3 separate regions of the Homo sapiens genome follow, and all the other regions are linked to region 3. The links come from fine-mapping of genetic effects on gene expression. A gene starts in region 3. Each other region holds a variant in brackets. All regions are shown on one strand. Distances are between the middles of the regions. Region 1 overlaps MLKL (mixed lineage kinase domain like pseudokinase). Region 2 has its middle 200 kb from the start of PSMD7-DT. Region 3 holds the start of MLKL (mixed lineage kinase domain like pseudokinase).

Evidence for each region.
Region 1: its variant is fine-mapped to the expression of MLKL in whole blood (INTERVAL, PIP 0.94).
Region 2: its variant is fine-mapped to the expression of MLKL in whole blood (INTERVAL, PIP above 0.99).

Annotation. Positions count from the first base shown.
Region 1 is chr16:74,673,864-74,684,083 of GRCh38, forward strand. MLKL (mixed lineage kinase domain like pseudokinase) reads right to left here. Exons shown (of 11, transcript NM_152649.4): 6 at 8,788-8,923; 7 at 5,036-5,117; 8 at 1,750-1,901; 9 at 1,492-1,541; 10 at 1,097-1,237. Among named protein-coding and RNA genes, the nearest start is that of RFWD3, 12 kb to the left of the region's middle. RefSeq lists a silencer at 8,204-8,402. The variant C/CTTAT (reference allele first, on the strand shown) is at 3,178.
Region 2 is chr16:74,007,729-74,019,296 of GRCh38, forward strand. No RefSeq gene overlaps it. Among named protein-coding and RNA genes, the nearest start is that of PSMD7-DT, 200 kb to the right of the region's middle. The variant T/C (reference allele first, on the strand shown) is at 5,400.
Region 3 is chr16:74,695,807-74,707,374 of GRCh38, forward strand. MLKL (mixed lineage kinase domain like pseudokinase) reads right to left here and starts at 5,056. Exons shown (of 11, transcript NM_152649.4): 1 at 4,647-5,056. RefSeq lists an enhancer at 4,510-4,959.

The sequences.
Region 1 (10,220 bases), 23 kb before region 3:
CCAGGAGTTTGAGGCTATAGAGTGCCATGATCCTACCTGTCAATAGCCACTGCACTCTGGCCTGGGCAACATAATGAGACCTCCTCTCTAAAAAAAAAAAAAAAAAAAACCATAAATAGGCAGACAGATAAATAAAGGAAGGAAATAGGCAGGAAGAAAGTAATCTGCCTTTCCAACCCACTTTGGATAAAACAATGCCCTCTGGAAGCCCTTACACTATTGACATTGGGGCTGCCAGAGAGTTCTTTGTGTGGTGGGCTGTCCTATGCGTTGTAGGATGTTGAATAGCATTCTTTTTTTTTTTTTTTTGAGATGGAGTCTTGCCCTGTTGTCCAGGCTGGAGCGCAGTGGCGTGATCCTGACTCTGCAACCTCTGCCTCCTGGGTTCAAGTGATTCTCTTGCCTCAGCCTCCTGAGTAGCTGGGACTACAGGCATGCGCCAATATACTTGGCTAATTTTTGGGTTTTTAATAGAGACGAGGTTTCATCATGCTGGCCAGGGTGGTCTCAAACTCCTGAGCTCAGGCGATCCACCCACCTTGGCCTCGCAAAATGTTGGGATTATAGGCATGAGCCACCGCGCCTGGCCAACATTTTTTTTTTTGAGACGGAGTCTTGTTTTGTCACCCAGGCTGGAGTGCAGTGGTACAGTGGCGTGATCTTGGCTCACTGCAACCTCCCAGTTTCAAGAGATTCTCATGCCTCAGCCTCCTGAGTAGCTGGGATTACAGGCATGTACCACCATGGCTAGCTAATTTTAGTAGAGATGAGGTTTCACCATGTTGGCCAGGCTGGTCTCAAACTCCTAACCTCAAGTGATCTGCCCATCTCAGCCTCCCAAAGGGCTAGAATTACAGGCATGAGCAACCGCACCCAGCCATCATCCTTGGCCTTTATTCACTAGATGACAGTAGCACACTCCATCCTACCTCCCTGGCCTTATGACAAACAACAATGTTTCAGACATCACTAAATGTTCCCCGGATAAAACCACCCCTCGTTGTAAACTACTGCCTTGGAGCTGGTGAAAAGGAAATCTTTCACAAGTGTGAAATAATGATGGGGCTCACGCTCTTTACACCAGAAAGAACCCTACCATCCACAGAGGGCCGCACAGAGGGATCATGGGCCCGGCACTCATCAATGATCTCCCGCAGCTCTGAAGGGCAGTCTTCACCCAGTGGCTCCTGCTGCCGCTTCACAGCCACCAGCTTGCGGATCTTCTCAGAATTACAGCCTGGAAATGATAGCATGAGAGCCTCAAAAAATTGCTCCGCTACTCGTACATCTCTCTGGATGCTGATGGCTGGCATCAGAACTAGGGACTCTGAGTATGGAAACAACAAGAACTTCCAACGATTCCACTGACCAGCCCAGGCAGTTCCCACATTAAACAACAAATTGCCAGGGGCAGCACTGATGGGGAATTTCTGGTCTACTGGAAGGGGACCCAACCTCACCACTGGCTGAGCCAGTCTTCACATTCTTCACCTTGAAACGGGATATCTCCAGTGGCGATTTCCCAGAGGACGATTCCAAAGCTAAAAGAAAACCAAGAAACTGAACAACCATAACTAGTCTCCCCTTTCCCCTGTCCCTCTAGCCACTGCCAGAAAACTCAGTGAATTTTTTGATTACTACCCAATTTCATTCAACAGAGTTGAGTTTAGGTGGTCCTTGGAGGAGTTTGATTTGGGTTTTCCTATTATGCACATCTGAGTTAGAATCTGTACCAGAACGTGAGTGTACCTGTATATTTCAGACTTTACATCATATTGATAAAATACATCTTCCAGTTCCTGAGGTGAGAGATATGCTGTAGATTTGACTCTGTCTGTCTTTTCTCTCGTAGTTCCCAAACTCATGGAAGTCTGTGTTTTCCTCAACTCAAATCCTGCAAGCTAGATAGAGAGGCAACTTAGAAAGAAACAAGCAAGATCTTGGGTAGAGGAGTAAAGGGCAGGGATTGTTGCTACACACAATTGCCAGGGAATTGTCTTTTACCTTAGGGATTTATTTCCTGTCGTGACTTCTGTCTGTGTGGCTACTTTATTGGTTAACATTATGGGTTCAACTTATCACAGTGCAGTGACCAAGAGAAACACAAAGAGATTTCTTCTGTATAAAATGGGGCGATGACAGGGGGGATTACTTGAGATAATGGTTATAAAGCACCAGTAAGACCTGCTAAGTTGTAGTTGTTGCCAGTATGACTATGTTAAAATGTAGGGGTTTCTCAGTTGAGGACTGAACTCCACTCAGTGAGAGTGGAGAGGGGTCATAGAGCCACTGCCTGGCTCGCCTTTTCCCAAAGAAGCAGATGGAAAAATGGCATGGGGGCATCCCCTCTGTGCTATCTGACTTTATGGGGGGTCAGCCTGATCCTTTGGCTTTGGCGTGACGAGTGTGAGTCATCCCCCCAGGCCTGCGCGGTCACCTGGTGTTCTTAAAGAAACTGTAGCACAATCATGACAGCATATGTTCTTGTCCCATGCACACCTGCCATTGACACCATTGGTGTGCTGAAGGCTGCCAGCCCCAAACTCAGCCAGGTACCCAAATCTAGGGGCAATGTGAGAAAAGGGATAAGGCACTTAGATGGCTCATCCCCCTTTCATTCATTCATTCATTCATTTGCTCACACGTTTCCTGAGCACTGACATTCTCTTACATCTAGCGCCGTATGGGATACCAGGGATGAAAGGTGGAATAGCGCATCTTATAGTCAGGCTGCATGAAGAGCGTGAGAGTAGTAGAAACAGTGTTTTGGGAGTACTTATATCACCATCGCAGAGGGGGAAAGGCATCTGAAAGGCAAAAAAGGCCTGTCTGCTATTATTTGAGGGCTGTCTCTGACACTCGTAGGACTGGAAGAAAGAAAACCGTCTATGGATGACAAAGAAAACTGCTAAAATTCTTTTAGCATTTGGGAATTGTGGACACTGAGTTCACAAAATCTTTTCCTCTTCTGTATGAAAATCTGACTTCCAGTGAACTTCTTAGCTCTGTTCCCCTGGAAATCTGATACAGGTAGACTGTCACCTATGGCTCTTAGTAACATTGCTGATGATGAAAATAAAAATGACTGCTGATTGTTAGATTGCTTCTGGGCAGGATCAAGGGGGTAACAGGACTACACAGTAAACAGCTGATGGGAATGCTTTGTAGCAAATTTTT[C/CTTAT]TTATTTATTTATTTATTTATTTATTTTTTGAGACGGAGTCTCACTCTGTCGCCCAGGTTGGAGAGCAGTGGTGCAATCTCAGCTCACTGCAAGTTCTGCCTCCTGGGTTCATGCCATTCTCCTGCCTCAGCCTCCGGAGTAGCTGGGACTACAGGCACCTGCCACCACGCCTGGCCAATTTTTTGTATTGTTTAGTAGAGACAGGGTTTCACTGTGTTAGCCAGGATGGTCTCGATCTCCTAACCTCATGATCCACCTGCCTTGGCCTCCCAAAGTGCTGGGATTACAGGTGTGAGCCACCGCGCCCAGCCTCTTTTTTATTTTTTGAGACAGGGTCTCATTCTGTTGCCCAGGCTAGGGTATACAGTGGCGTAAACATAGCTCCCTGCAGCCTTGACCTCCTGGGCTCTAGGCATCCTCCTCCTGCCTCACTCTCCTGAGTAGCTGGAATTACAGGTGTGCACCACCATGACTGGCTGATTTTTAAATTTTTTGAAGAGGGGGAGGTCTCACTGTGTTGCCAAGGCTGGTCTTGAACTCTTGGGCTCAAAGTGATCCTCCTGCCTTCCCTTCCAAAGTGCGGGGATTACAGGCATAAGCCACCATGCCTGGCCATGTAGCAGCTCTTTTCTTTTCTTTTTTCTTTTTTTTTGGAGATGGAGTTTTGCTGTTGTTGCCCGGGCTGGAGTTCAACCACGCGATCTCGGCTCACTGCAAACCTCTGCCTCCCGGGTTCAAGTGATTCTCCTGCCTCAGCCTCCTTAGGAGCTGGGACTAGAGGCGTGCGCCACCACACCCGGCTAATTTTTTGTATTTTTAGTAGAGACAGTGTTTCACTATGTTGGCCAGGCTAGTCTTGAACTCCTGACCTCAGGTGATCCACCCGCCTTAGCCTCCCTAAGTGTTGGGATTACAGGCGTGAGCCACCATACCCAGATGTGGCAGCTCTTAAAACAGCAACTCACATGTCACTTGCAGAAACACTGGAAGGCATGCCTGCAGAGTTGTTACCAGAGATGCTGACTCCTGCAGGTCATGGGCTTCTAAGCCTGGATGACCCACACCCACCTAATGGGAGCCTCTTTCTCCAGCACCTGTGGCTCTGACAAAGAGAGTATCTCCTGGATGACTGCGAGGACTCACCCTGGAGGGAAAGGTTTGGCGCTGCTGACATCCTTCTAAGTAACTGAATGACAAGTGTGGCCTAGACCTGTCCTGTGAGTCTGAGTCCTTAAACCTAACAAGATCCCCCATTGTATGTTGTAGGGACATAGAAGTGGTGTCCAGGCATCTAAGGGGAAATGACTTGTAGCCCATCCCTGCTAAATGGGCAGTGAGGGAAGGCAGTCATCAGAACAGGCGGCATAGATGGAGACTGTTGTGTGGTGGGCACACAGAAAGTTGAAGTTAGTTCTGAAACTAAAAAACTAAAATTGAACTCAGTTCTAAAACCAAGGCAAGGCCGGGCATGGTGGCTCATGCCTGTAATCCCAGCACTTTGGGAGGCCCAGGTGGGCGGATCACTTGAGGCCAGGAGTTCAAAACCAGCTGGCCAACATGGTGAAACCCTGTCTCTACTAAAAATGCAAAAATTAGTCAGGAGTGGTGGTGCATGGCTGTAATCCCAGCTACTTGGGAGGCTGAGGCAGGAGAATCGCTTGAACCTGGGAAGCAGAGGTTGCAGCGGGGCGATCTCGCTCACTGCCCTCCAGCTTGGGTGACAGAAAGAGACTCTGTCTCTAAATAAATAAATAAATAAACTAAGACAAGAATCAAGCCTTTCTGAGACACTCGTGCCCCTCTCATAGCACCAGTCATGCAGGTTTGACCCAAAGCGCCCCCGCAAGGCACACTCACCTTCACTTGGTAGCCTTGAGTTACCAGGAAGTTTGAGCTTCTGATTTTTCCGTGGAGTTCAGGTGCTTCTGAATGGTGTAGCCTGACACAGCCAAAGGCGGGGAGCATAAGTACCTTTGCCCAAACTTTCTTTGGGGGACTGACAATCATAACTGGGCTGATGAGGCTGGACAGTACCATGGGTGCCTGTCCACAGTTACACAGGAAAAACTGGGATGTAGAGGCAAGGTTTGAGAATCACAAGCCGTGAGTATAGAACAGAGATGAGATTCATAGCACAAGGGGGCATGACAGCCCTTATGAAGTGCATGCAATCGGGCATCAGGGGTGCCTTTAGGTAGAGAAGGACAACGTTGCCTCTGTGTTGCTTTGCCTGGGAAGTGCTGGGCAGATCCGAGAGCTCAGAGGCATGGCTGGGTGGCTGGACCTTGCTGGGACCCTTCAGGTCAAAGCAGAATGTGAAGCTGGGGTCCCGCTGACTTCCAGACAAGGGCTTTGGTTTCACAAAGCCCCTGCGTCCCAGGTTGGGTTGCACTCATGGTGTCTGCCTGAGCTCAGATTCTCCCAGAAGCAGATCATGAGCCATGATTTGGGCACGAGGGATTTGTATCAAGAAGGTGCTCCCTTGACCAGGCATGGTGGCTTGCGCTTATAATCCCCACACTTTGGGAGACCAAGGTGGATGGATCACTTGAGGTCAGGAGTTTGAGACCAGCTTCGCCAACATGGTGAAACATCATCTCTACTATTAATAAAAATACAAAAAAATAGCTGGGCGTGGTGGCATGTGCCTGTAATTCCAGCTATTCAGGATGCTAAAGCATGAGAATCACTTGCACCCAGGAGGTGGAGTTTGCAGTGAGCCGAGATCACGCCACTATACTCCAGCCTGGGCAGCAAAATGAGGCTCTGTCTCAAAAAAAAAATAACTCCAAAAGTCCCCCAAACAAACAAAAAGAAGGTGCTCCCAGGAGAAATGGTTGAGGGAGTACAGGAAGTAGGATGGCGAAGGAGAAGAAATCAAGCAAGAGGTTGATTTCAGGTGAAATCCCAGGCTCAGGTGGTCTCGCGGAGACCTGTGGGCACAATTACACCTCAGAGTGTGTCCCACAGGAAGCAAAGGAACTGGACTTTTATACTTACACCAGTCAGTGGTTATGGACTGTGTTGGGGAGGGCAGGGACAGATGGATATAAAACTCGTGGGCACTTTCAGCTGTCTATAAGGGTGAAAGGGCTCCAGTGCCCACAGGCAATCCTCTGAAGATTGCAGCTGTGAACTTTCAGCAGCAAAGCATGCCGAGAGGGGGATGGGTAAATAGAGCTGGTAAAAAGGATCAGAGGTCATTTGGAGGGGATATTAACAGTGTCCCCTACAACATCCAAAAATACTTCTCCTTAAACTCACTAGTTTAGGGAGTTGAGAAGAAACAAACTTAATTTCAAATTAATAGCTAAGACAGTGTTTCCAAAAGTGTGGGATAAGGTGGTATGCAAGATTATATAAAGGGAAAATTACTCTCCTTTCAGTTTGCTCCAGTCTTTCTGATTACATCAAGAAGAAAGTCTGCGTTTGGTATTTTTTTTTTGTTTTTTTGTTTTTGTTTTTTGTTTTTTGTTTTTTTATGAGACGGAGTCTCGCTCTGTCGCCCAGGCTGGAGTGCAGTGGCACAATCTCAGCTCACTGCAACCTCTGCCTCCCAGGTTCAAGCGATTCTCCTGCCTCAGCCTTACGAGTAGCTGGGACTATAGGTGCGTGCCATCACGCCCAGCTAATTTTTGTATTTTTAGGAGAGACGAGGTTTCACCGTGTTGGGCAGGATGCTCTTGATCTCTTTACCTTGTGATCTGTCCGCCTCAGCCTCCCAAAGTGCTGGGATTATAGACGTGAGCTACTGCGCCCAGCCTTGGTGTTGGGTATCCTTAACTCTGCCAATATCTCCAATATCTCCATTGTACAAAGAGAATGTGGGTTGGATCACAGAGCTTCTGGCAGGCAGCCTCATCCAGCCAGAATTTAATTACATTGTTTTGGTTTCATTTGTGGTTACCTATTTTTGGCAAGTGACACTGGTTTTCAATTTATGGTAGTAAGAGAAAGTGTCCTTTTTAAAAGCTTTATTTCAATTATTATTATTATTTTTTGAGATGGAGTCTTGCTTTGTCGCCCAGCCTGGAGTGCAGTGGTACGATATCAGTTCATTGAAACCTCCGCCTCCTGGGTTCAAGTGATTCTTGTCCCTCAAGCCTCCTGAGTAGCTGAGATTACAGGCCTGTGGCACCATGCTGGGCTAATTTCTGTATTTTTAGTAAAAACAGGGTTTCGCCACGTTGGCCAGGCTAGTCTCCAACTCCTGACCTCAAGTGATCCACCTGCCTTGGCCTCTCAAAGTGCTGGGATTATGGGCGTGAGCCACTGGGCCAGGCCTTTATTCCGATTTTTAAAAAGTGAGTCAATGTAATGAAAAATGTTAAGTAAATAACACTGGTAGTAGTATAGTTAAAACCCTGCAGATGGTTTGTGAGTGACTAACCTTTGGGGACCCTTGGGACTAAGAATCCATAGATTCTGCAGGTGAGAATAGGTAGAGTTGCCAAATAAAACACAAGACACGGCCGGGCGCGGTGGCTCACACTTGTAATCCCAGCACTTTGGGAGGCCGAGACAGGTGGATCATGAGGTCAGGAGATCGATACCATCCTGGCTAACATGGTGAAACCCCGTCTCTAATAAAAATACAAAAAAATTAGCCAGGCGTAGTGGCAGGCACCTGTAGTCCCAGCTACTCGGGAGGCTAAGGCAGGAGAATGGCATGAACCTGGGAGGCAGAGGTTGCAGTGAGCCGAGATCGTGCCACTGCACTCCAGCCTGGGCAACAGAGGGAGACTCCATCTCAAGAAGAAAAAAAAAGAAAAGAAAAAAACACAAGACACTCCATTAAATTTGAGTTTCTGATAAGCAATGAATATATAGATTCACGTACACGCATATATATATGTACAAGCATGCCCACAAATTGTATAGGACATAGTTGTACTAAAAATAAATGTTTATCCAAAATTTGAGACTGGGTGCAGTGACTCATGCCTGTAATCCCAGCACTTTGGAAAGCTGAGGCAGGAGGATTGCTTGAGCCCAGTAGTTCGAGACCAGCCTAGGCAGCATGGCAAAACCTTATCTCTACAAAAAATATATATAAAAAAAAAACTGGCTGAGTGTAGTGGTGTGCGCCTGTAGTCCCAGCTTCTCAGGAGGCTAAGGTAGGAGAATCCCTTCAGCTCGGGAGGTTAAGTGATCTGTGATCATATCAGTGCACTCCAGTCTGGGCAAGAGAGTGAGACTCTGTCTCAAAACATAAAATAAAATTTGATATTTTTGATATTTAGTATAAGTATATACCATGCAATGTTTAGGATGCACTTATACTAAAAAATGATTCATTACTTTCCTAACGTTCAAATTTAACTGGATATGTTCATTTTTATGCTAAATCTGTCCACTCCAAAATTAGGGCTCATCCAACTCTATAAGTGCAGTGTGGACATCAATTTCAACCGTCAGTTCTGGGAGCTGGTGTTCCCTGGGTTAAGCCTCTTTCCTCCCTCCTATCTGTAATCAGAGTAAATAGTAAAACAGTGTATGGGAGGGAGACTGTCTGGGGCGTCTGGCCTGTTCTCTCACCATCTCTGGGAGTATCAGGAGTGTGGACAGACCCATCCAACCCTTAGTGGCGCCTTTTCACCCCGTCTTACCGGTATAGGCCTCGGGCTGCCCCCAGGACTAGGACCATGCGCTTGCCAAGTGTGAGGTCTTTTTCCCTATCCAACAGCTCCCTCAGGGTCCCGAGTTCACAGTACTCCATGACAATGGAGAATTGAGGCGGAGTCACTGGTGGAAAGGAGCCAGACACTATGAGGACCCGCCCTACTTGAAGCTTCCCATGTCTGCAGCCCACCTCTCCCAGCCTCGGTACAGATACAGACTTGGCTCTGCTGAGTCCCATTTCTCCCCCAATCCTCAGCCCACAGTTTTGGTCCCCGGCCTCCTTGAATGGACCAAATATGCCCAGAATTCCCATCCTCTTCTCCATAATACTTGGCTTGTCGTAATTCTACCTTAAAAAAAAAATTGGCTGGGTGCGTTGGCTCATGCCTGTAATCCCAGCACTTTGGGAGACCAATGTGGGTGGAACACAAGGTCAGGAGTTTGAGATCAGCCTGGCCTACGTGGTGAAACCATGTCTCTACTAAAAATACAAAAATTAGCTGGGTGTGGTGGCAGGTGCGTGTAATCCCATCTACTTGGGAGGCTGAGGCAGGAGAATCACTTGAAGCTGCGTGGCAGAGATTGCACCACTGCACTCCAGCCTGGGCAACAGAGTGACACTACATCTCAAAAAAAAAAAAAAAATGTTCTGCCAGGTGTGGTGACTCACGCCTGTAATCCTGGCTCTTTGGGAGGCTGAGGCTGGTGGATCACTTGAGGCCAGGAGTTCGAGACCAGCCTGGCCAACATGATGAAACCTCGTCTCTATGAAAAATGCAAAAATTAGCCAGGTGTGGTGGGACATGCCTGTAGTCCCAGCTATTAGGGAGGCTGAGGCAGGAGAATTGCTTGAACCTCGGAGGTGGAAGCTGCAGTAAGCATATTGTACCACCGCACTCCAGCCTGAGTGACAGAATGAGACTCTGTCTCAAAAAAAAAAAAAAAAAATTCTTTTTCTTTTTCTTTTTTAACTTCTATCTCCCTTTCTTGGTATAATTCAAAATTTTCTTGAGCAGTTATTTGGCGAATGTCTTCCTCACTCAACTGGATTCCCAAGAAGGCAGGAAATGTGTCTGTCTTGTTCACATGGGTGCTCACAAGAAGCTTCGTACATCTGTGTGGGAGGAATGAGTAGGGCACACATGGCAGGGGCGGGTGAGGACTCAGACAAGAAGTCGACTTCCCCATTCATGGGCCTGAGCTGCAAAACTGACATGTGACTGAGCCAGGCACCTCAGCGGTCCCCAAGGAGAACAAACGTTGCTGAACATTTGTCTTTATTTTTTATTTTTTAATTTTTTTGAGACAGAGTCTAGCTCTGTCACCCAGGCTGGAGTGCAGTGGCATGATATTGGCTCACTGCAACCTCCGCCTCCCAGGTTCACGCAATTCTCCTGCCTCAGCCTCCCGAGTAGCTGGG
Region 2 (11,568 bases), 690 kb before region 3:
TTTTTCTTCCCTGAATCTTTTCTAGGTACATTACACTTTTACTCAATTACAGCAAACAAAGTAACATAGGATGGCAATTCTGGGAGCAGATACGTTATGGTCTTAAAATAGTATATTGTTATATGTTAAAAGGCGTAATAAGTCCTATATACAAGTCTGCACAAAATCTCAAATTGTTTTCTGCCTCAATTCTCAGCTGCAGGAATAGGTGTAGTTTTTTCTGGCTGGCTCCTACAGTAACTGGCAAGAGTCAAGATGGAAAAAGGTTTCTTTCCTTACTCATTAACCCAGAGAATGCTGCCAACTACTGTTTTGTTTAAGCTATTATTTTGGTCAGCTTTGAAAATTAAAAATATATATACAGTAATAAATGCTTTGGGAAAAAGCATGGTCACCACTTATAGAAAATATATAGAATATATTCTGAAACTCCACCTCAAAAAAATGCTGATGAAAATTAAAATGAGTATATAAGTCATGATTCAAAAGGTAGGAAACAGTGAAAATATATTCTAAAAAGCTCCAAAAGAAATCAAAGTAATATAGATTAAGCTATCTATCATAATAATACATATAAATAAGTTAAACACTCAGACAAAAATTCCTAGATTACATTTAAAGAAAAAATACAATTTACCTAAGCACTTAAAAAAGTGACACAGAAAAGTTGAAAAGTAGAAGGATAGAAAAAGATATGGCAGACCAACATAGACCAAAAGAGAGTAATAGTTCCTATGTCAGTAAAAGCAAAAAAACAAGGCCAAAAGTATTCAATGAATAAAGAAAGTATTATGTTCACAAAAGGTACAATATATATAATGCTATAATAGTCATTAACACTTATACATGGAAAAACATTGCCCTGAAATAGAAAAATAAATTTAAAAGAAGGAAAAATTAATAAACATAAGAAACACCAGGGTATAAATCTGACACATTAGTCAAAATGTAATAATACCTTCACACAAATCAAACATTTTAATAACCATGGAATTTAACATTAGTTTGCTATATTACCTAAAAAGAAATACTGACTAAATTCCAAACAGTAAAAATTACACAGGAAGTATTTTTCATTTTCTGTCCACAGTATAATGAACACTTAAGCATAAGCAAAACCAAATAGAACAAAACAAAAACCTTCAGCAATTTGAACACTTTTTTAGACCTCCTAATAGAAATTCTCAGATTATTTAGGAACTAATCACAATGATCATACCACTGCAGCAATGCTTAAGCTGCACCTAAAGCTATGCCCAGAGGCAAATTCATAGCCTAAATTGTTAGCTTATTAAACATTAAAGACTCAAAAGAAATGGCCTGAAATATTCAAATCCGAAAATTATGTAAGTGTGTGCATGTATTTAATGCATATAGTATAATTTTAAAGAACCCCATGTGCTAGCCCATCACAATCAACCTCTATACTTACAGGGGAAATATTAATACTTGGTGGTCAGCTGCTATCTACTATCTGTGGATGGAGAAAGGAAGACCTGCCAATAATGCACCACTGATATGCTTGGAGAACACTCTAACAAGAAAAAAAATGAAAAAAAAAAAATACCACTAAAACCAACATGAGCCTACACTAGCGATAAATACTAAACGACCTGCATCAGAAGTTCCCAAACACTGGTCTATACAAATAGTATCAAATTATTGGGTACCTATTGTAAAAAGTAACATTTGCACGTCTTTCCCTGGAACTTTCAAATTAGAATCTCCATGAGTAGTACATAAAGGTCTCTATCATAGTTACTTTTGGCAACCCACTAGATGCGGATCTTAATTTGTTAGTATCAGGCAATAAGGAAAATGTACCTTGTGTTAATGCAGAAAACAATAAAGAACATTTAACTTCAAGTCTCACTGAGATGAAAGAGGCTATTTCATCACTGAAGAAAGAGTAGAATAGAAAAAAAGGAAAAAGGAGGAGGAAGAGAAGGACAAGCCACCATCATCTAAGAACAAAAATGAATTCTTTGAAATAAAAAAAAGAATGAGGGTGTTTAATAATGGCAGTGAAGGGCAGAATAAAACTTACGAAAACAAAATGAGTGAATCAGAGGCCAGGAAGAATTCTCCATGCATAAGAGTTCTTAAAAGAGCAATTAGAAGAATAGGACGGCTTTGCAATGTGTTGGTTTGGTGAGACTGAACTACATTTCCCAGAATTCCATTTCTTGTATATACATACATCCTAATTATATACCACTGTTCTACGTAATTATCCATCTAATCTTCACAGCCATGTTACAAGCTTGATTCCATAACTATCCACATTTTAAAGGTAAGGAAACTGAGGCACAAAAGTTTACATGGTTTGCTCAAGGCCTCACAGCTAGTAAGTGTTGGACCTGGGTTTGATACTACCTCCACTGACTCAAGGGTACATCTTTTTAATTACTACAAATCACAGAGTAGTTAAGCCAGTAAAACTATTCATTGTCTAAATACTTGTTGCTAATGTGCTCCTGAAATTTAATGTACTTAGTCATGAGCCACATTATGACATTTTGGTCAAGGACAGATGTCTTATGGTGGTTCCATAAGATTATAATGGAGTTTGGGCATGTTAGCTCATGCCTGTAATCCCATTACTTTGCAAGGCCAAGGCAGGTGGATTACTTGAGGTCGGGAGTTCAAGACTAGCCCAGCCAACATGGCGAAACCCCATCTCTACTAAAAATACAAAAATGAGCCAAGAGTGGTGCCACATGCCTGTAATCCCAGCTACTTGGGAGGCTGAGGCAGGAGGATCGCCTGAATCCAAGAGACAGAGGTTACAGTGAACCAAGATTGTGCCACTGCACTCCAGCCTTGGCAACAGAGACCCTGTCTGAAATACAAACAAAAAAAAAAGATTATAATGGAGCTGAAGAACTCCTCTCACCTCATGATGTCTTAGGTTGGAATATAACCTTTTCTATGTTTAGCTACATTTAGATACACTAATATTATCTTTGTGTTACAATCATCTACAGCACTCAGTACAGTAACATGCGGTACAGGTTTGTAGCCCAGGAGCAATAGGCTAGACCACATGGCCTAGGATTGTAGTAGGCTGTACCATCTAGCTTTGTGTAAGAACACCGTGTGATGTTCACAGTACACCAACATCACCTAGTGAGGCACTTCTCAGAGAATATTCCCATTGTTAGGCAACACATGACTGTATATGGCAAGTCTACTGTGTTTGTGTTTTCCAATTCATTAGTTAATTTCTATTGCTGCAATGTAATTAACATGGTTGGTCATTTTCATTCCTAAATGTATTGTTTTTCCTAAATGGAAAAAAAAAAGTATACTCCTAAAAAATCCAAACTACAAAGAAATAAAGACAGCGAAAACACCCCATCATTCCTACCTCTGCTATCACTTTGTTGTACGTAATTCCAGACATTTTTTACGCATACTGCTAGAAGGAAGGCAGGGAAACAATTTGGGGAGAGTTACACAAGAGGCTTCATTTGAATGATGAGTATATAGGTATTCATTTAATTACTACTTATACCCTCTATATCTAACATTCCTTTGTAAGAATAATTTGATTGAAAAAATAAACAAGCTGCCTTTCACCACAAATGGCATGCTTATTAATATAGTCACTGAGTTTATTAAACTTTCTAACAGTGATCAGATATAAAAGTGTACCTTGCTACTCTGCAATTCCCAGGATTACCCTTAGAAATCTGAACTATATGCTATGGAAGTGCTTAAACAATAAGTAAAGAACGCTTGTACTCAGAATTGCCAATTACAACTCTGTAACTTTATGTACTCCCAGAACAAGCAAGACAACATATTCTTTTCCAGGACATTTTAATAAAAATAATATGAAACAGTCCTATGCTATGATAAAAGCACAGTTACTGTGTGCTCAAACACTGAATATTCCCATTGTGCTGCTTATTTAAAACAAAAACAATAAAAACAGGATGCAACAAGCACAGATCTAAGAACCTTCACACATATTAGCTCATTTAATCTTTATGCTGAACAGTTGAGATGGGGAACGTTGTTCCCATTTTACAGATAAGAAAGCCACAACTCAGAGAGGTTAAATCATATGCCCCATGTCACATGGCCACTAAGTGACATCTCCTGTTTCCAACCCAGGCTCCTGCCCGCAAGTCCAGTGTTCCTTCCATTACATCATTGAATAGGTTGGTTTTCCTAGTGGGAAACAACAGAAGCCAACCATGGCTGATGAAAAATGAACAAGGATAATAGGTAATGCAGAGAACTTGGGCAATACAGACAAAAAGACCCCAAATCACACCACAGAGCCAGTGGAGAGAGGGCACTACTGTCACTGCTAAGCACTAAAGAATACAAGCAGGGAACGCAGGATGTTCTCACTAATACACCAGCACTGCTGTTCCAAGAACACAGTCTTCATGCAGCCACTGCCCCTACCAAGGAGATGACCTTGAGAATGTGCCTTCCTGTGACTGTGGGGGTAACCCCTGGACTCTAGATGATGCCCACTTGTACTCCAGCTGCAAGAGGGCAAAAGGTGATCTGGTAGGAAAACAAATAACTGGCATTTTCAGCAAGAGGTAGACACCGCCTGCAATGAGACTCAGTAAGATGAGAGAGAACACAAAACATAGGAAGGAGACCCAGATACTGGGTGGTCAAAAAAGATGACAAGTGCTCACTGAAAGACCACCCTTTGACTGGTTCACATCAACAAACATTTTTCTTCCTCATACTTTTTCTCCCCACCTCCCAAAATAAAGCTCTTACCTAACCTAATACAACCATCCTTATCTAATCTAAAAGCATTCCTGGCCGGGTGGCGTGGTGGCTCACTCCTGTAATCCCAGCACTTTGGAATATCGAGGCAGGCGGATCACCTGAGGTCAGGAGTTTGAAATCAGCCTGGCCAACATGGCAAAACCACATCTCTACTAAAAATACAAAAATTAGCAGGGCATGGTGGTGTACAACTGTAATCCCAGCTACTCAGGAGGTTGAGGCAGGAGAACTGTTTGAACCCAGGAGACGGGTTGCAGTGAGCCAAGACTGTGCCATTGCACTCCAGCCTGGGCAACAGAGCGAGACTTCGTCTCAAAAAAATAAAAATAAAAATAAATAATAATAAAAGCATTCCTTCCTTCCTTCCTCCAATGATGAAAAAACTAAAGGCCTTTCAGTTGATGCCTCCAGCTATAAGTCCAAGATCTTCTCTGGTACTCTCACTCTTCAGTATTCTATTATCTACAGACTCAGCTGTAAAGTTAATCCCTAACATACACAGTGTCAGACAGTAGAGAAAAGAAACAGGAAAAGAGAATAAAATGTGTTAAGATACATAAACAAACATGAGACATAGCAGGTAGGAAAACATGGGCCTATGCTACAGTCATCTGCAGATGGATGTGAGGCTG[T/C]AGTGGGGGCTTTGTCCCTCCACTCTTTTCCTTCCACGTTCTCTTCAATTTCATTCTACTACTCAGCTGACCAGGTTTATCTACCCAATATGACGACCTGCCTTCATTCCTGAGGGGTTTGAGATATTGATGTGTTCTTCCATTAAATTTTAATCACTGGAGCAGTACAAGGTGGCATCCCAAAACATCCCTTGGGTTCCATACACCTTGTTGCTATTACATAGCAGTAACCTTATTGACCAGAACAATCTCCCATGCCAACCCAGAACATCCTTTTTCACAGATTTGGCCAATGACACAAGAAGTCTGCGATAGCTAGGTGGGTTGGTTTACCCTCTCATTCAATGCAATCACTGCTGTTCCCTGATGGAAACCATCTTCCTTTGGGTATTAAGCCTCTAAAGTAGCAGATCACAGGGTTTCGGAGATGGGAAATGTCCCAAATATAATTGCTAGGCATTCACCATTCCAACCATTTCTTTATTTCAACTACCTGACTCCAGAATTTTATCTACATGGGGTTTTCTTGAACTTAACTATTCTCGAAATGACTGATTCTTACTTCTCCAGTATCTTTTTTTTTTTTTTTTTGAGACAGGGTCTTGCTCTATAACCCAGGCAGCAGTGTAGTGGCATGATCATGGCTTACTGCAGCCTTGACCTCCCAGGCTCAAGCAATCCTCCCACCTCAGCCTGCTGAGTAGCTGGGACCACAAGTACATGCCATCACACCCAGCTAATTTGTTTTTTTTTTGTAGAGATGGGTCTCTCTATGTTGTCCAGGCTGGTCTCATTCTGGGCTCAAGCAACCCTCCCACCTCAGCCTCCCAAAGTGCTGGGATTGCATGCATGAGCCACTGCACCTGGTCTCCAATGATTTCATAAGCATCTAGTTACCTGCATGAAAGCCCTTTCTGCCTAAAATACCTGAAGTGATTTTTTGTCTCCTGCACTGAACCCTAACTAATACAGAAAGTAACTTTTGTGAGTGGGTCATTAGCTGTACTTGTAAGAGATACTATTGCCTTTTTCTCTCTCTTGGCTTCCAAACTTATACATTTGTTGTATGACTGACACAGGATCACATGCTGATCACTAGTTCAAAGCACACATCACGTCCCACAGGACAGCACCCCAACTTCACAAGGTAGTCTCTAATCTGAAGCTCTAACAGAGTCATCAATAGGCCTTTCTACCATTCTGGATGATTGCATAAATTGTAGGAAATGGTTGATCCGTCCTTAGTATCCATTCCTACCATTTCATATACGTTTTCCTAAGCTACAGAGGTTAGAAAACTACAATTTTATTTCACAGACTCCACTGCAGCTTCTGGGAGACTGCATGAATCTTCTGTGTTGTATCTGCTGCCTTACTTCTTTCAATGTAGAGAAACTATGTTTAGAAACTATGTGCTGTGGGACACCATCATGGGACGTAAAGCCTTCAATCAATCTAAGAATGGTAGGCTGGCTAAAGCATGGCAGGCAAGGAATACAAACGCAAATTCAAATTCAAAATTACTTTTGCTCCTTGATGATCTCTACTGATGATTAGTTAGGTTCTAGATGGTCCCCATTTCGCATGGTACCATATTGGGGGCTACAGCTAGCAAGTTGAGCATTCATTAATGGCAGTTGACAATGGTGGTTAAGGTAAAGTTTACAAGTTGAGGCCAGGCTACCACTGAATGTATTTATAATGCTAAAATAGTCCTCTTTGAGTTGGTGCTAATTTATGCAAAATCAGGGGTAATTAAGTGTCCACTTTTCCCCTTAATCATAGGAACCTCCCCTTGAAAACACAAGTGTGAGTTGAGAAAAATCTCCTTGAAGTAGATGCCATATATGGCACTCATATGATTTGGCTGTATCCCCACCCAAATGTCATCCTGAATTCCCACCTGTTGCAGGAGGGACCCAGTAAGGGGTAATTGAATCATGGGGACAGGCCCCATGCACTTCTCATTTTAGTGAGTAAGTCTCACGAGATCTAATCGTTTCATAAGGGAGAGTTTCTCTGCACAAGTTCTCTTTTGCCTGCTGCCATCTGTGTAAGACATGACTTACTCCTCCTTGCCTTCTGCCATGATGGCGAGGCCTCCCCAGCCATGTGGAACTGTAAGTCCATTAAACCTCTCTTCTGCAAATCACCCAGTCTCAGATATGTCTTTATCAGCAGTGTGAAAACGGACTAATACAACCACCTCTACTTGAAAACCCATTGCAGTTTAGTATACCCAAATACGTGGCTAAGTGACTCCTGTGACATGCATCACGGGCAGCTCAGATTGAATAGTTATCTAGTAGGTCATGGTTAAGCATTTAGTCTCTGTAAGACCCTTGAAGCAAGGGGAGAGCTGTTTCTCAATAAACTAATTGCTTAACTAAGAGACCATGGCTTCAATCTCAAACCCCAGGGCTTTTACTATGCTTCTCCTAATGAGACTTAATACAGTCTTCATACAGCATCACAATATGTCAAGACACTTAGAGTAATAAGCAATAAGGTATGTTCTGGCAGTCAGAGAAATCCCTCAGGAAAAAGAATTTCAGTTCTGGAAGTTGCAATTTTGAAGTAGCGAGGTGTTATGGGTGAGGCCCTGACAGCACTGGCTATATCTAGTAAGTGGCTTCAAGCAGCATAGCCCAATGTGGGATATGCTGCCTTCAGAATGAAAATAGACCCATCAGGTGCTGTTTCTTTGTTAGTGGTAGAGGATTCAAACTGCAGCATATATTGTGAAATGTTCCAAACCAATGAACCCTCAGAAACCCCTATAGCAACTATATCCTTGTATTTTCAAGAATACATCTCTCATTCTCTAGCATGCATGTGTGTTACCAGAGCATCTAGAGTGTCTACTGCTTCTATTCTCTTGATCATATCAGCATAGTGTCATTGATGTCCTGGACTAGTCTGATATCTTTTGGGATAATGAGATGATCTAGTTCCCTAGAGATTACATCATGGCTTGAGGTCAGAGAATTTACATAACTCTGAGGCAAAGTGGTAAAAGTATATTGCTATCCATGCCAAGTATAAGCTAAATGCTACTGATGTTCTAAATTTATTGTGATAGAGAAAACAAGATTTGCAAGATCAGTAAAGGCTATGTTCATTTGCTTCAGTAAAGACACCACATTTGGAACACCTGATTTAAGGGAAGTTATCACCTGTTAAGCTTATAATACTCTACCAGAATTCTCCAAGTATAGTAGAGAGTTATGTCAGGAAGCAACAGGAATCAGTTTCTCCACCTCTTTCAAGTGGCTTCTTATGACATTTGTCACTATGGTTCCCCCAGGGATGTGGTATTTCTTTTCATTTACTCTTGGTATTGAGAGGAATTCCAGAAGTTTCTTTCCATTTAGTCCTTTCTAGTATAATAGGTGAGAAGCCAGTATGAGGTTCCATCATTGTTGATTATATATATTCCAATGGTACATTCATGAATTAAAGAAATACAGTATGTATTCAAGGTCCCACTGGGCCTACAATGAGACAGATATGAGTTAGAGCTCCATCACCTGAATTCCATAAAACCCATACTCAGAACCACAGAAGAAGCACAGTGTGTTCTGAGTCACCAGGACTTAGTGTTAGCCCAGAGCTAATGTCTAACACTTTCTGAAAGGTCTAAACATTTCACTTCTCCCCACCAAGTTCCCATTTACTCAAGTTCCCATTTAAATGGCTTAGGTCACTTTGTAAAAGGATAAGAAGATGTATAGCCACTAATTGAGACGTTATTGTAGCTTACTCTTTCTCTCAAGGGTATTTGACTTCCCCTTTATTTAAAGAAGCCTGGAACTATAAACTTTTATAGATTTGGGACTTTGTTGAGAGGTCGTGACCATTGTGGTAATTCAAGTCAGGCCTTGATTTATCAAGTATGCAATTTCTGTTACTCTTATTGAGTAGAACCTAATTGGGCTAACAATGTATTATAAATCTAGCTACTTCCAAATATTAAAGTTGATCAAACCATTATCCCACCAGCTATGATGCATATTACAATAACCATAACCACCTTGTCTCTAATGGTTTGGAGCTGCCACTTAGCCTCTGCCACCCTGGGATCCAGTAAACTCCCTGAAATCATGGAACCTTGCTGTATCTCTCACCAGCATCATTAGCTTACAGAGAATGGCCACTTTGGCACTCTTCCAAGACCTGGAACACTCTCATTCCTGTATTTCTAAATAACTGAAGAGATTATCTTCTGAATCCTCTTAGAGAACGTGGTACAGTTAGGCAAAGATGATAAATCCATTCCAACGTTTCTAACTTCCTGAGGAGTTGAATGCCTAGTGTGGCATCTAGCACACTCACTCACTTGGGGCTACCATATTGAATCCAGAATCTGTGCTAAGTCAATCCATATCAACAAATTCAGCCAAATTTAAAATTATACTCTTTCCTTGTTCATTTGCCTTGAGAATCCATTTAGCAGATTTTTGCAAATAAAAATTATCAACATCTTGCAGTTTTGACTTTGCAGTTGGTATTCCAAGGCATGCTGAGATCTGTCTTTAAGATAGGGATCTGGGGATGGTGAATGATGTTGAGAATGGGCCATAAGGAGGATGGAATTCCCTTTGCAAAGGGGGTCATTCTGGTTTTCGAGTAAGACAGGCAAGAAGGCTGCTCCAGCCAACAAATGAGACTCATGAGGCTGGGATCTCATCATACTCTGTCCCTTCCCCATATCTCTACCCCAGTTCCGAGGTTCTCCTCTCTCAATCAATACACTTTCACACCTGGCTGTAAATTCAACTGACTTGGTAGCTCAGCAACCTTGGGATTCAAGTCTTAATTTACTTTTAATTTCTTCAGCTTTGTGCCTGCAAGAGAGAAGATATTCTTTTGATACTATTATAGAAAGTCTCTATCTAAGCCAAGAATTTAGGACTTCGAGCTTATTCTTTTTTTTGGATACGGAGTCTTGCACTGTCACGCAGGCTGGAGTGCAGTGGCGCAATCTCAGCTCACTGCAACCTCCACCTCCCGGGTTCACGCCATTCTCCTGCCTCAGCCCCCCGAGTAGCTAGGACTGCAGGTGCCCGCCACCACATGCAGACAATTTTTGGTATTTTTAGTAGAGACGGGGTTTCACCACGTTAGCCAGGATGGTCTCAATCTCCTGACCTTGTGATCCACCCGCCTCAGTCTCCCAAAGTGCTGGGACTACAGGCGTGAGCCACTGTGCCCGGCCCGAGCTTATTCTTTTGCCTTGAACTGTCCAGCACATTAGAAGCAACCAGGCCTAGTACTACTTATTTATCCATTAATGTCTTAAGTTGCAAGTAACAGAAACCTACATTGGCTTACTGGAGCAAAGACGATGCTCATTAAAAAATATTATCTAGCTCACAGAATGGTTGTGGAAGCTGAAGATCCAGGTTCAGCAATACAAAGCTAGGTTTAATGCTAGCGTCACAGCAGAGAACTCTTCCACTGAGGACATCCCTGCTGCCACTGCTGAGTCCTGGTCAGTGCAGTCTGCACTGCAGACATACCCATCAACAGACACTAGATGCCATGACCAGCACTATCACTTTTGCTCCCCAGGAACTCAGTCTTTCTACAGCTCACCTCAACTCTGAAATGAGGGTGTCCTATGAGCAAAACCTGGGAACACACCTGTATTCTCACTGTCACACAGCTTTGGAAGTGTTATTTCTCTAGTGGGAGGTGAGCGCCACTAAGACTCATAGCATTGCAGAATTCCCCCCAAATAGAAAAGAGATTCTGATACTAGAGATTTATCAAAACACCAATTATATCCCACAGAATAAAATGAAGACAAAAAAATGTTAAGGGGTTTCTAGAATTGAAGATGATGCATCGAAGTAATAATTTGTCCATAAAATTGACAGATTTAAAACGTTAAAACACTCAATGCTGGTAAGATGTGGGGAAATGGCATTCTTACACCCTATAGAAGTGAGAGCTTTCTGGAGTAATAAAGCAGCACAGTGCTCACCCCAAAGCCTTTCCATTTCTTCTTTTGTGCCCATCTGTCATCTCCACAAATTTTCTAACAAGTATTATTTAACCCCAGAGAAGAAAATGTATTATTATTTCAAAATTTAAGAAACATTACCAAGCATTCAGGCAAAACAAAGTTCACATTTGGAACTTCTCTTTTGGAGAAACCTACCAA
Region 3 (11,568 bases):
ATTCACTACTTGGCTAAGAAAGAATCAAAGCGGTCTGTGACTTAAATGCCTGAGGAGGTCTCCCCAGCATTTTCATGCAAGATAGAGATGGTTTGCTACCCACCAAAATCTGTTCTGCCCTTGCACAATAATAGAGTTGTAGCTGGGAAGAGCTGGTCCAGCCGGAACTACATCTCCCAGCCTTCCTTGCAACTTGATGTGGCCATGTGACTAGTTCTCACCAATGGGGTTTAAGTGCATGTGACCTGCTCTACTTCGGACTGGGGCAGCTGTGCCGCCTCCTCACACTCTCCCTTGGTTGGCTGGATGCGTGGGGTGAAGCGGCCCTGGGGTGGTGGAGCCCCAAGAAGAGTCCTGAGTCCCTGGATAATCACTTGGAGGAGAGCTGCCCACAGACCTGGAACGTCTGTCATGGACTGTTAAGTGATCAAGGAATAAACTTGTATTGCATGTAAACCGTTAATATTTTCAGGTTGATATGTTTATATCAGTTTCGTCTATTACAGATATATCCTGCTAAAGCATAGAGGTTTCAGGGGCCAGGCGGGTAATTCAAATGAGTGAAGTGAGCTGAGGTAGTCTTTACTGCCACAGATAAATATGTTTCTTTCTGTTTTTTTTTAAAACATGTGGACTATCTTTCATTTTTCCTACAAAAAATTGTTCAGTTTCTTCCTACAGTCCTTTAAGAAAAATGCAGCTGGGCGAGGTGGCTCCCACCGATAATCCCAGCACTTTGAGAGGAAGAGACAGGAGGATTGCTTGAGGCCAGGAGTTCCAGACCAGTCTGGACAGCAAAGTGAGACCCTTTCTCTACAAAAATAAAAAAAATAAAATAAAATAAAATGAAATAAATAAAATATAAAATTGGCTGGGCGCGGTGACTCACGCCAGTAATCCCAGCACTTTGGAAGGCTGAGGTGGGCGGATCACTTGAGGTCAGGAGTTGGAAACCAGCCTGGCCAACATGGTGAAACCCCGTCTCTACTAAAAATACAAAAATTAGCTAGGTGTGGTGGTGCATGCCTGTAATCCCAGCTACTCGGAGGGCTAAGCCAGGAGAATTGCTTGAACCCAGGGGGTGGAGGTTGCACCATCTCAAAAAAATGTAATACATTACATATATATAGTAATATATATAATATTACATATATATAGTAATATATATGTAATATTACATATATAGTAATACATATATATAATATTACATATATATAGTAATACATATATATAATATTACATATATATTATATATATAAGTTAGCCTGGTGTGGTGGCACACACCCGTAGTCTCAGCTACCTGGGAAGTTGAGATAGGAGGATTCCTTGAGTCCAGGAGGTTGAGGCTGCAGTGCCAGCTTCCTACTCTTAACCTCTCTCTCTTCTCTGAACATGAGTGAGGAAGCACAGAGCCCTGATCCTAAAGCTTGGAATGAGGCTAACCTGAGCATGGTAGAATGGAAAGGGAGAAAGAATCTGAGTCTTTGATGACAACATTGAGCCACTGGTTTGAACTGACATGAAGTGTACCCCATCCCCTAACTGCAGGTTTCATGAACCAATAACCTCCCTGATTGTTTAAGGCAGTTTGAATCATGTTTGCTTTATTTGCAACTGAAGCCGACTGCGTTCAGCAATGAATGATGATAATAATTATGACACTAGATCTCTCAATTCACCTACTACATCCTAAGTGCTTTGGAACCCCCAGCTCTCCATGGTTATTTTCATTTAACAGATGAAGATACCATCTGGGCACAGTAGTTCATACCCGTAATCCCAACATTTTGGGAGGTAGAGGTGGGAAGATTGCTTGAGGCCAGGAGTTCCATTCTGGGCAACACAGCGAGACCCATCTCTACTAAAAATACAAAAATTAGCTGGGACCTGTAGTCCCAGCTACTCAGGAGGCTGAGGCGGGAGAATCGCTTGAGCCTGGGAGGTTGAGGCTGCAGTGAGCTATGATGACACCACTGCACTCCAGCCAGGGAAACAGAGAGACCCTGTCTCGAAAAAACAAACAGGTGAAAAGTGAAGATGCTGCGGTTCAGGGAGGTTGCATTCAAATAATCACAAGGCCATGGAACCAGTTTTCAAAGTATTTAAAATAAAGTTAGGGTAGGGTGTCATGACTCAAACCTGTAATCCCAGCACTTTGTGAGGCTGAGGCCAGGGGATCGTATGAGCCTGAGTTCGAGACCAGCCTGGGCAACATGGTGAAACCCTGTCTCTACAAAAAAATACAAAAATTTGCTGGATGTGGTGGTGCTTGCCTGTAGTCCCAGCTACTCTGGAGCCTGAGGAGGGAGAATTGATTGAGGCTGGGAGGTCGAGGCTGCAGTGAGCCATGATTGTGCCACTGACTCCATTCCAGCATGGGCAACAGAATGAGACAGTGTCTCAAAAACACCACCACCACCACCACTAACAAACGACAACAAAAAACAAAGTTAGTTTTTTTTTTTTTAACAGCTCAGTGAAATAGGTAGGTTAAGTATTATCGCCAGTTTATGGATTAATTAGCAGCTTGGAGAAAATAATTGGCCTGGAGCCCAAGTATGGCTTTAAAACATGAGTAAGGCACTGGCAGAAGTGAAACTAAATAAATGAGCAATCGATATAGTTGTGTTTTTGTTGCCTGAGAGTTACAGTGATTGGGCAAGGGAGGTAACAGTTATTAGGGCACTCCTAAAAAGACTAGTGGATCTCAGACTACCCAGCTATTCCCACGTGCTAAGCAGATATCTTCAAGGCCATTTCTTGGGAATTGTGAGGGCAAAAGGTTTTACACTTTCTCTGTTGCACCAGAAACAGAAGCAAATGTGGCAATGTTGTTCAAGGAATCTTGCAAATTGTAGCTTCCTAGCTCTAAGCTCCAGTTATCTTACCAGCAGCCTCATCAGAAAGCCATATCTCAGCACTGAACTAATCAGAAAGGAAAATGGGGAAAATATCCCACCCATAGAACTGACAAACAATTTCAAATAATAAATTATACAGTGGTGGCATGGTATGAAGAAAATTGCAGCGGTCACATTGGCTCATGCCTGTAATCTCAGCGCTTTGGAAGGCCGAGGCAGGTGGATCACCTGAGGTCGGGAGTTTGAGATCGCCCGGCCAACATGGTGAAACCCCATCTCTACTAAAAATACTAAAATTAGCCAAGCATGGTAGCAGGCGCCTGTAATCCCAGCTACTCGGGAGGCTGAGGCAGGAGAATTGCTTGAACCCGGGAGGTGGAGGTTGCACTGAGCCGAGATCACACCACTGTGCTCCAACCTGGGCAACAGAGCAAAACTCCGTCTCAAAAACAAAAACAAAAACAAAAAAAAAGAAAGAAAGAAAATTGCACAAAACAAAGCTTGAAGAAAGGAGGAAAGAGAAGTGTTATATTTCTGGCTGGGAAGACTAAAACAGACCAACCCAGCAATCCTTCCCAAATTTAAATCCAATTTAATGCAGTTCCAATAAAACATCTACTGACATATTTTGGCATTAAATCAAAATGATCCTAAAGTTCATTTGAAATGGGAAATTAGTAGGGATAACCAGGATTTTAAAAAATAAAGAAAAGGGGACTTGCCTGTATGAAATTAAAATATATTAAAAACTGCAAAATATTGGGAAAAAGCACCCTACAATAACTTAAATTGTTTAAGGTCTTATTAAGTATATGATCTACAAGGGAAGAAAGGGAATATACATATATACACACTTAGACTGGGCAATTTGAATTTCTAGGAACTTATGATGTAGAAAAGCTTGTGTTTGTAGATAGATGGCTACCGAGATGTTCACTGCAGTGCTATTTATAATATGTAAAACAAACAGCTAAGAATATGTTCAGGCCAGCTGCAGTGGCTCACACCTGTAATCCCAGCACTTTGGGAGGGTGAGGTAGGAGGATCACCTGAGCCCAGGAGTTTGAGACCAGCCTGGGTGACAAAGCGAGACCCTGGCTCTACCAAAAAATACAAAAAAAATTTAATTGGGTGTGGTGATGTGCACCTTGTAGTCCTAGCTACTTGGGAGGATCTGGTTGGAGGATCACTTGAGCCCATGAGTTCGGAGGCTGCAGTGAGCTATGATTGTGCCACTGCGCTCCAGCCTGGGCAACAGAGGAAGACTCCATCTCTCAAAATAAATAAATAAAAAGAAAAAGGGGATTATGTTCATATGTTACGATGAGAAAACAGGTTACTAATTTTAAAAGTGAAAAATCTTTAAATGGTAATAACAATGCAAATTCACCTCTTCCCTCCAAAAAATAAAAAATAAAAATAAAATAAAATAAGTAAAGGTTATCAGGCATTTCCCTCTTCTCTCTCTCTCACTCTGTCTCTCTCTCACGCCTTCAGCCTGCAAACCTGAAGACTTCCTTTTTCTGAGAAGACATCAGGTAACTTGTTCCCGTGCCCCTGCCCTCCACGACCCCCACTGCTACTGGGCGTCTCGCTTTGGCGGAAGGTAGTGCGAGATCCGAGCAGGCAGCTCCACCATCAGAGCTGAGGAAATGAAACCAACTCGGTCCTGAGTTCCAGGAACTCGGACCGGGCCACCCTCACCCCTGGTTCTTCCCATCACCGTCCAGGAATTCGGCTGCAGCCCCTCGGCCCCGCCGCCTCCTGGGAAGACCCCATGCTCACCTTCGCGCCTCCCGAGGGGTGTGCGTCCAATCTGTCCCGTGCACAGTTCCAAAAAGCTCGCTCTTCCACCTTCTTTCCCACGACCGCCTCCTGCCCAGGCGAGAAGTTTGCAAACGCGAGGCCCGCGGGAGTTCCCCTGCGCCCCCTTTCCTGGTGCCCGCACCCTGCACTCTGCTGACTGTACCGGACGCCACACGTGGCTGGCGGCGACAAGGCGCCCCGATCCCTACCTGAGGGAAACCCCGGCCACTGCAGCTGCACTTGAGCAGGGTCCCTCCACTCAGCCACTTGGATGGCTGTTTCTGTCCAGTGCCCTCCGGAGGCCACTGCCTCAGGTCTGTGATGCCTGCAGAGAATGCTGCGACACTTCCCCCTCCGACGTGGCTCCAGCTGCCAACCACCAGGCTCACGGTGCCCTGGCTCCCTGGAGCCGCTTTCTAGGCAGCTCGGAGCCACGGCCCCTCCCTTCCTTCCTCCTGTCCTTTCCACACTCTTCCTGCCTTCCCCAAAGTCACTGGGTAACTACGCTGTACACGTCAGTACCAAGCCTTCTTTAGGGGCTGGGGATTCAGAATAGAATAAGGTCCCAGCAACTATTATAACCAGGACACAGTATGAGAAGGACTGGAAGTTTAGAGAAAAACTGAAAGTTGGAGAGAAGCTTCTGGTGTTTGCTTCTCTGTGCTGGATAATATTGGCGGGGTGGGGAGGGTACGAGGGAAGAGACACCAAAGTGGGAAAAAAGTCACTTCCTCTTCTAAGGTCATTGCAGAACATCCTGTTACAGTGTGAGTCAGGTTTTCTTAAGATTAACTACATCTTCAGCTAGAAAGTCTAAGTAGTGTTATGCATTTACTCAACAGACTATTTGCCTCTAAAAGAACAGAACTGGGAGCTGGGTGTGGTGGCTCATGCCTGTAATTCCAGCACTTTGGGAGGCGGAGGTGGCCAGATCACCTGAGGTCAGGAGTTCAAGACCATCCTGGCCAACATGGGGAAACCCTGTCTCTACTAAAAATACAAAAATTAGCCAGGCGTGGTGGTGCATGCCTGTAATCCCAGCTACTCGGGAGCCTGAGAGGGGAGAATCGCTTGAAGCCGGCCTTGGAGATTCATTTCTTCGCCTTGCTATTGTTCTTCGTCTCCTGCATCATCAGTTTTCTTCCTGTCTTAGGTGAAGAGATTGAGGTGAGGCAGGAGAATAGGGTCTGCAGGCAGGGAACATAAAGCTGATTCACGCTGACTTCTTAGAACTAAATAAAATGGACACATTTCAGCTATGACAGGAAATATTTTCTTCATTTACATATGGCGTTCACTGAGTAAGTGACTGAGCAACTTCACTTCATCTTCTTCATTTACATAGGGTGTACACCAATTAACCAATGGGAGCCTCTAGAGGGTATTTAAATCCCAGAAAATTCTGTAACGGAGTTCTTGAGCCCCTATGCTCACGCTGGCTCCCACCCTGTGGAGTGTACCTTTGTTTTCAATACATCTCTGCTTTTGTTGCCTCATTCTTTCCTTGCTTTGTGCATTTTGCCCATTTCTTTGTTCAAGATGCCAAGAACCTGGACACCTTCAACAAGTAACACAGGTGCCTGTGATTTATTGAAGGAAGACTCTTAGGAGAGTGGTGGGTATGATAGGGCAGAGGAAGAAAAAGTGAAACAAGTATGTAGTCAGTGGAGGCTCCATGGGGAGGTCTGGAATGTGAAGGTCTGGAACAAGAGGCAGCCTCCTTTCTGCCCAGGGCAATTCTTCTGGACGAGGGGGAAGCTGTGTGAGTGTTTAGCTGTCAACACTCATAGCAGCTGCAGGATGGGTATACTGATCTGCTATAAACAAAATCATACAATGTATAACCTTTTGGAAGTTTTTTTCTTTTCTTTTCTTTTTTTTTTTTTTTACTGTCCCACCATCAATGTACAAGACATTCAGTTTCTCTGCATCCTCAGCAGCATTTTATTTTGTCCCTGCCTGAATTTTTAGCTATTCTAACAGGTGAATAGTGATATATCATCATGGTTTTTTGTTTTGTTTTGTTTTGAGATAGAGTCTTACTCTGTTGCCCAGGCTGGAGTGCAGTGGCGCCATCTCAGCTCACTGCAACCTCCACCTCCTGGGTTCAAGCGATTCTCCAGCCTCAGCCTCCCAAGTAGCTGGGACTACAGGCGTGCACCACCACACCTGTCTATTTTTTGTATTTTTAGTAGAGACAGCGTTTCGCCATATTGGCCAGACTGGTCTCGAACTCCTGACCTCAGGTGATCCACCCACCTTGGCCTCCCAAAGTGCTGGGATTATAGGCATGAGCCACTGCGCCTGGTCTCATCATGGTTTTAATTGGCATTTCTTTAGTGCCTGGTGATGATGGACATGTTTTCATGTGCTTGTTTGCCATCTGTATAGCCTCATTGGTGAAATGTCTGTCCATGTCTTTTGCCCATTTTTAGTTGAATTCTTTTTAAAAAACTTGAGTTTTGAGAGTTTAAATATTCTAGATATTAATCCTTTGCCAGATAGGTGGTGTTCAAATGGTGGTGGAGTAACTGAACAAAAAAATGAACTTCACCTAAACCTCATATTCTATGCAAAAATTGCCTGAATGGATCAGAGATTTAAATGTAAAATGTAAAACAAGGAACCTTTTAGAAGAAAGCAGAGAGAACTGTGCAGAATGAAAGGACATTTCCTGTTGAGAAAATGTAAATGTTTGAAAAAAGTTTAGGGCCGGTCGCAGTGGCTCACGCCTGTAATCCCAGCACTTTGGGAGGCCGAGGTGGGCGGATCACGAGGTCAGGAGATTAAGACCATCCTGGCTAACACGGTGAAACCCCATCTCTACTAAAAATACAAAAAAAAATTAGCCGGATGTGGTGGCGGGTGCCTGTAGTCCCAGCTACTCGGGAGGCTGAGGCAGGAGAACGATGTGAACCCAGGAGGCGGAGCTTGCAGTGAGCCGAGATCGCGCCATTGCACACCAGCCTGGGTGGCAGAGTGAGACTCCGTCTCAAAAAAAAAAAAAAAAAAAAAGAAAAGAAAAAAGTTTAAATGAGCCCTTTAAAATGTTTTTATTTTTAGTAGAGACAGAGGTCTCCCTGTGTTGCTGAGGCTGATCTTGAACTTCTGAACTCAAGCAATCCTCATGCCTTGGCCCCCCAAAGTGTTGGGATTACGAGCTTGAGCCACCTTGCCTGGCCAAATGAGTCTATTTAATAAGAATGGCTATTCATACTAAAAATTGTACAATATTAAAAATAATTCCCAGTTTCTTTGGCTTTATCTTGGAGTTGCCATTTGAAAAAAAAAATCACAAACATTTGAAAAAAAAAAAAACTTGTAGAACATGTAGAAGAAAATCTTCAGAACCTAAGGCTAGGCGAAGAATTCTTAGGCATAACATCAAAGCCATTATTATTCTTTCTTCTTTTCTTTTTCTTTCTTTTTTTTTTTTTTGAGACGGAGTCTCCCTCTGTTGCCAGGCTGTAGTGCAGTGCTGTGATCTCAGCTTACTGCAACCTCCACCTCCAGGGCTCAAACAATTCTCCTGCCTCAGCCTTCCAACAAGCTGGGACTACAGGCATGTGCCACCACGCTTGGCTAGTTTTTTTTTGTATTTTTAGTAGAGATGGAGTTTTAGCATGTTGGCCAGGCTGGTCTCGAACTCCTGACCTCAAGTGATCTACCTGCCTTGGCCTCCCAAAGTGCTGGGATTACAGGCATGAGCCACTGCGCCTGGCCCCAAAGCCATTATTCTTAAAATTAAAAAATGATAAATCAGACTTGATCAAAATTTGAAACTTGCTCTGCAAAGACCCTTTTAAGGGGATGAAAAGACAAGTTACAGATTGGGAGAAAATGTTTGCAAATCACATGTCAAATAATATGCTTCTAAATAATTCATGAGTCAAAAAGGACATTTTCTCAAGAGAAATGAAGATATATTTTGCTCAATAAATTTAAACAGATCAAAATCATACAAAGCATCTTCTTTGACCACAATAGAATAAAACTAGAAATAAATAACAGAAAGAGAACTGGAATATTCACAAATATGCAGAAATTAAACAACATACACTTAAACAACTAGTGGGACAAAGAAGAAATCACAAGGGAAATTAGAAAATACTTCGAGACAAATAAAAGATACAACATGCCAAAACTTAGGGGATGCAGCAAAAACAGTTCTCAAAGGATAATTTATAGCTACATGGCTACAAAAGAGAAAAAGAGAGAGGCCTGGTGCCGTGGCTCATGCCTGTAATCCCAGCACTTTGGGAGGCTGAGGCGGGTGGATCACGAGGTTAGGAGTTCAAGACCAGCCTGGCCAACACGGTGAAACCCCGTCTGCTAAAAATACAAAAAAAAAAAAAAAAAAAATAGCCCGACGTGATGGCGGGCACCTGTAATCTCAGCTACTCAGGCGGCTGAGGCAGGAGAATCGCTTGAACCCAGGAGGCAGAGGTTGTAGTGAGCCAAGATCATGCCACTGCACTCCAGCCTGGGTGACAGAGTGAGACTCCATCTCAAAAAAAAAAAAAAAAAAAAGAGAGAGAGAGATCTCAAATCATTATCCCAACTCTACCCTTTAAGGAACTAGTAAAAGAAGAACAAATCAAACCCAAAACTAGCAGAAGGGAGGAAATTACCAAGATCAGAAAAGAGAAAATCAATGAAACTGAAAGTTAGTTCTTTGAAAAGATTAATAAAATTGACGAATCCTTAGCTAAACTAAAACAAAAAGAAGATGAAAATAACTTAAATCAGAAATGAAAGTGGGGACCTTACTATCTACCTTACAGAAATAAAAAGGACTATGAGAGAAAACTATGAACAATTGTTTGCCAACCAATTAGGTAACCTAGAGGATATGGACAAATTCCCAGGCACGCAAAATTTACCTAATTCACTCAATGAGAAATAGAAAATCTGAACATACCTACAACAAGTAAAGAAATTGAATTAATAATCAAAACTCCTCCAAACAAGTAAAGTCCAGGCCTAATAGTTTTACAGTAAATTCTACCAAACATTTTTTTCTTTCTTGGAGACTTTTATTTATTGTATTTATTATATTTTTTTATTATATTTTAAGTCCTGGGGTACAGTGCAGAATGTGCAGTTTTGTTACATAGGTATACACGTGCCATGCTGGTTTCCTGCACCCATCAACCCGCCACCTACATTAGGTATTTCTCCTAATGCTATCCCTTCCCTAGCCCCCACCACCTGACAGGCCCTGGTGGGTGATGTTCACTTCCCTGCGTCAATGTGTTCTCATTGTTCAACTCCCACTTATGAGTGAGAACATGCGGTGTTTTCTACCAAACATTTAAAAATAAATTACCACCAATCATTCTCAAACTCTTCCAAAAATAGGAGAGGAGGAAACACTTCCTAACTCATTTTAAGAAACCAGCATTACTCTGATACTAAAGCCAGATAAAGACACAAGAAACGAAAACTACAAGCCAATATACCTTAAGAATCCAGAGGCTAGCTGGGCGCAGTGGCTCATGCCTATAATTCTAGCACTTTGGGAGGCTGAGGCAGTTAGATCACTTGAGCCCAGGAATACGAGACCAGCCTGGCCAACATGGTGAAACCTAGTCTCTACCAAAAATACAAAAAAATAGCCAGGCATGGTGGTGTGCGCCTGTAGTCCCGGCTACTCGGGAGGCTGAGGTGGGAGGATCACTTGAGCCCATGCCACCACACTCCAGCCTGGGCAACAGAGCAAGACCCTGTCTAAAATAATAATAATAATAATAAAAAGCAATACAGAAAGTTACATGGATGTAAAAACCTTAACCAATTTAAAGCTCAGTTTTCCTGAGTAACTGAAACCTAATAAAGACAACATAGGAAATTGTCTTGGTAAAACATAAATTCTTTGTTTTTTTTTTTTAAGGCCAGTTACCAAAAAGATTAAGAAAAATTTCCTGTACTGTGATTGCTTCTCTTTATAGGAAGGCTGTTTAGATAACCTGAAAGTTACACCTGATGAAAAGAGTAATAAAATTTAATCAGACATAAGAAGAATGTGTCCAAGGTTATGAGGGTACACTGTATTATAGAAGAAAGTAGGCCAGGCATGGTGGCTCATGCCTGTAATCCCAGCACTTTGGGAGGCTGAGGCAGGAGGATAACGAGGTCAGGAGATTGAGACCATCCCAGCCAACATGGTGAAATCCCGTCTCTACTAAAATACAAAAAAATTAGCTGGGCATGGTGGTGCACGCCTGTAGTCCCAGCTACTTGGGAGGCTGAGACAGGGGAATCGCTTGAAACCGGAAGGCGGAGGTTGCGGTCAGCCGAGATCACACCGCTGCACTCCAGCCTGGGCGACAGAGCAAGACTCCATCTCAAAAAAAAAAAAAAAAAGGAAGAAAGTAAACAAACAAGAAAACTTGTACCTTGATAAGGGGAATAGGTGATTCTTAGCAACAGGATGGGAAGTTTTCTGGCAAAAATTCAGACACATCAAGAGTAGCCAAGAGTACAGAATCAAGGTATAGTGAAAGAAAGCATTGTTCTTCCAGGCCTTTAAGATAAACATTTCAGTGTCAGGCTATAAGGGCAGAGTTAGACTGGAGAAAAAAAAGTTATAAGAGGTGATGAAAAGGTTGAAGGAAAGAGTCACTATCCCAGGCAAGGTCTTGCTCTATTGCCCAGGCTGGAGTGCCGTGGTGTGATCATAGCTCACTGCAACCTCAAACTCCTGGGCTCAAGTGATGCTCTTGCCTCAGCCTCCGAAGTAGCTAACACTACAGGTGGTGTACCACTACACCTGGCTAATCTTTAAATTTTTTCATAGAGAAAGGGTCTTGCTATGTCGTCCAGGCTGGTCTTGAACTGGCTTCAAGTAGTCCTCCTGGCTCCCATTTCATAATTTTTAAAAACATGTTTTTCCATAATA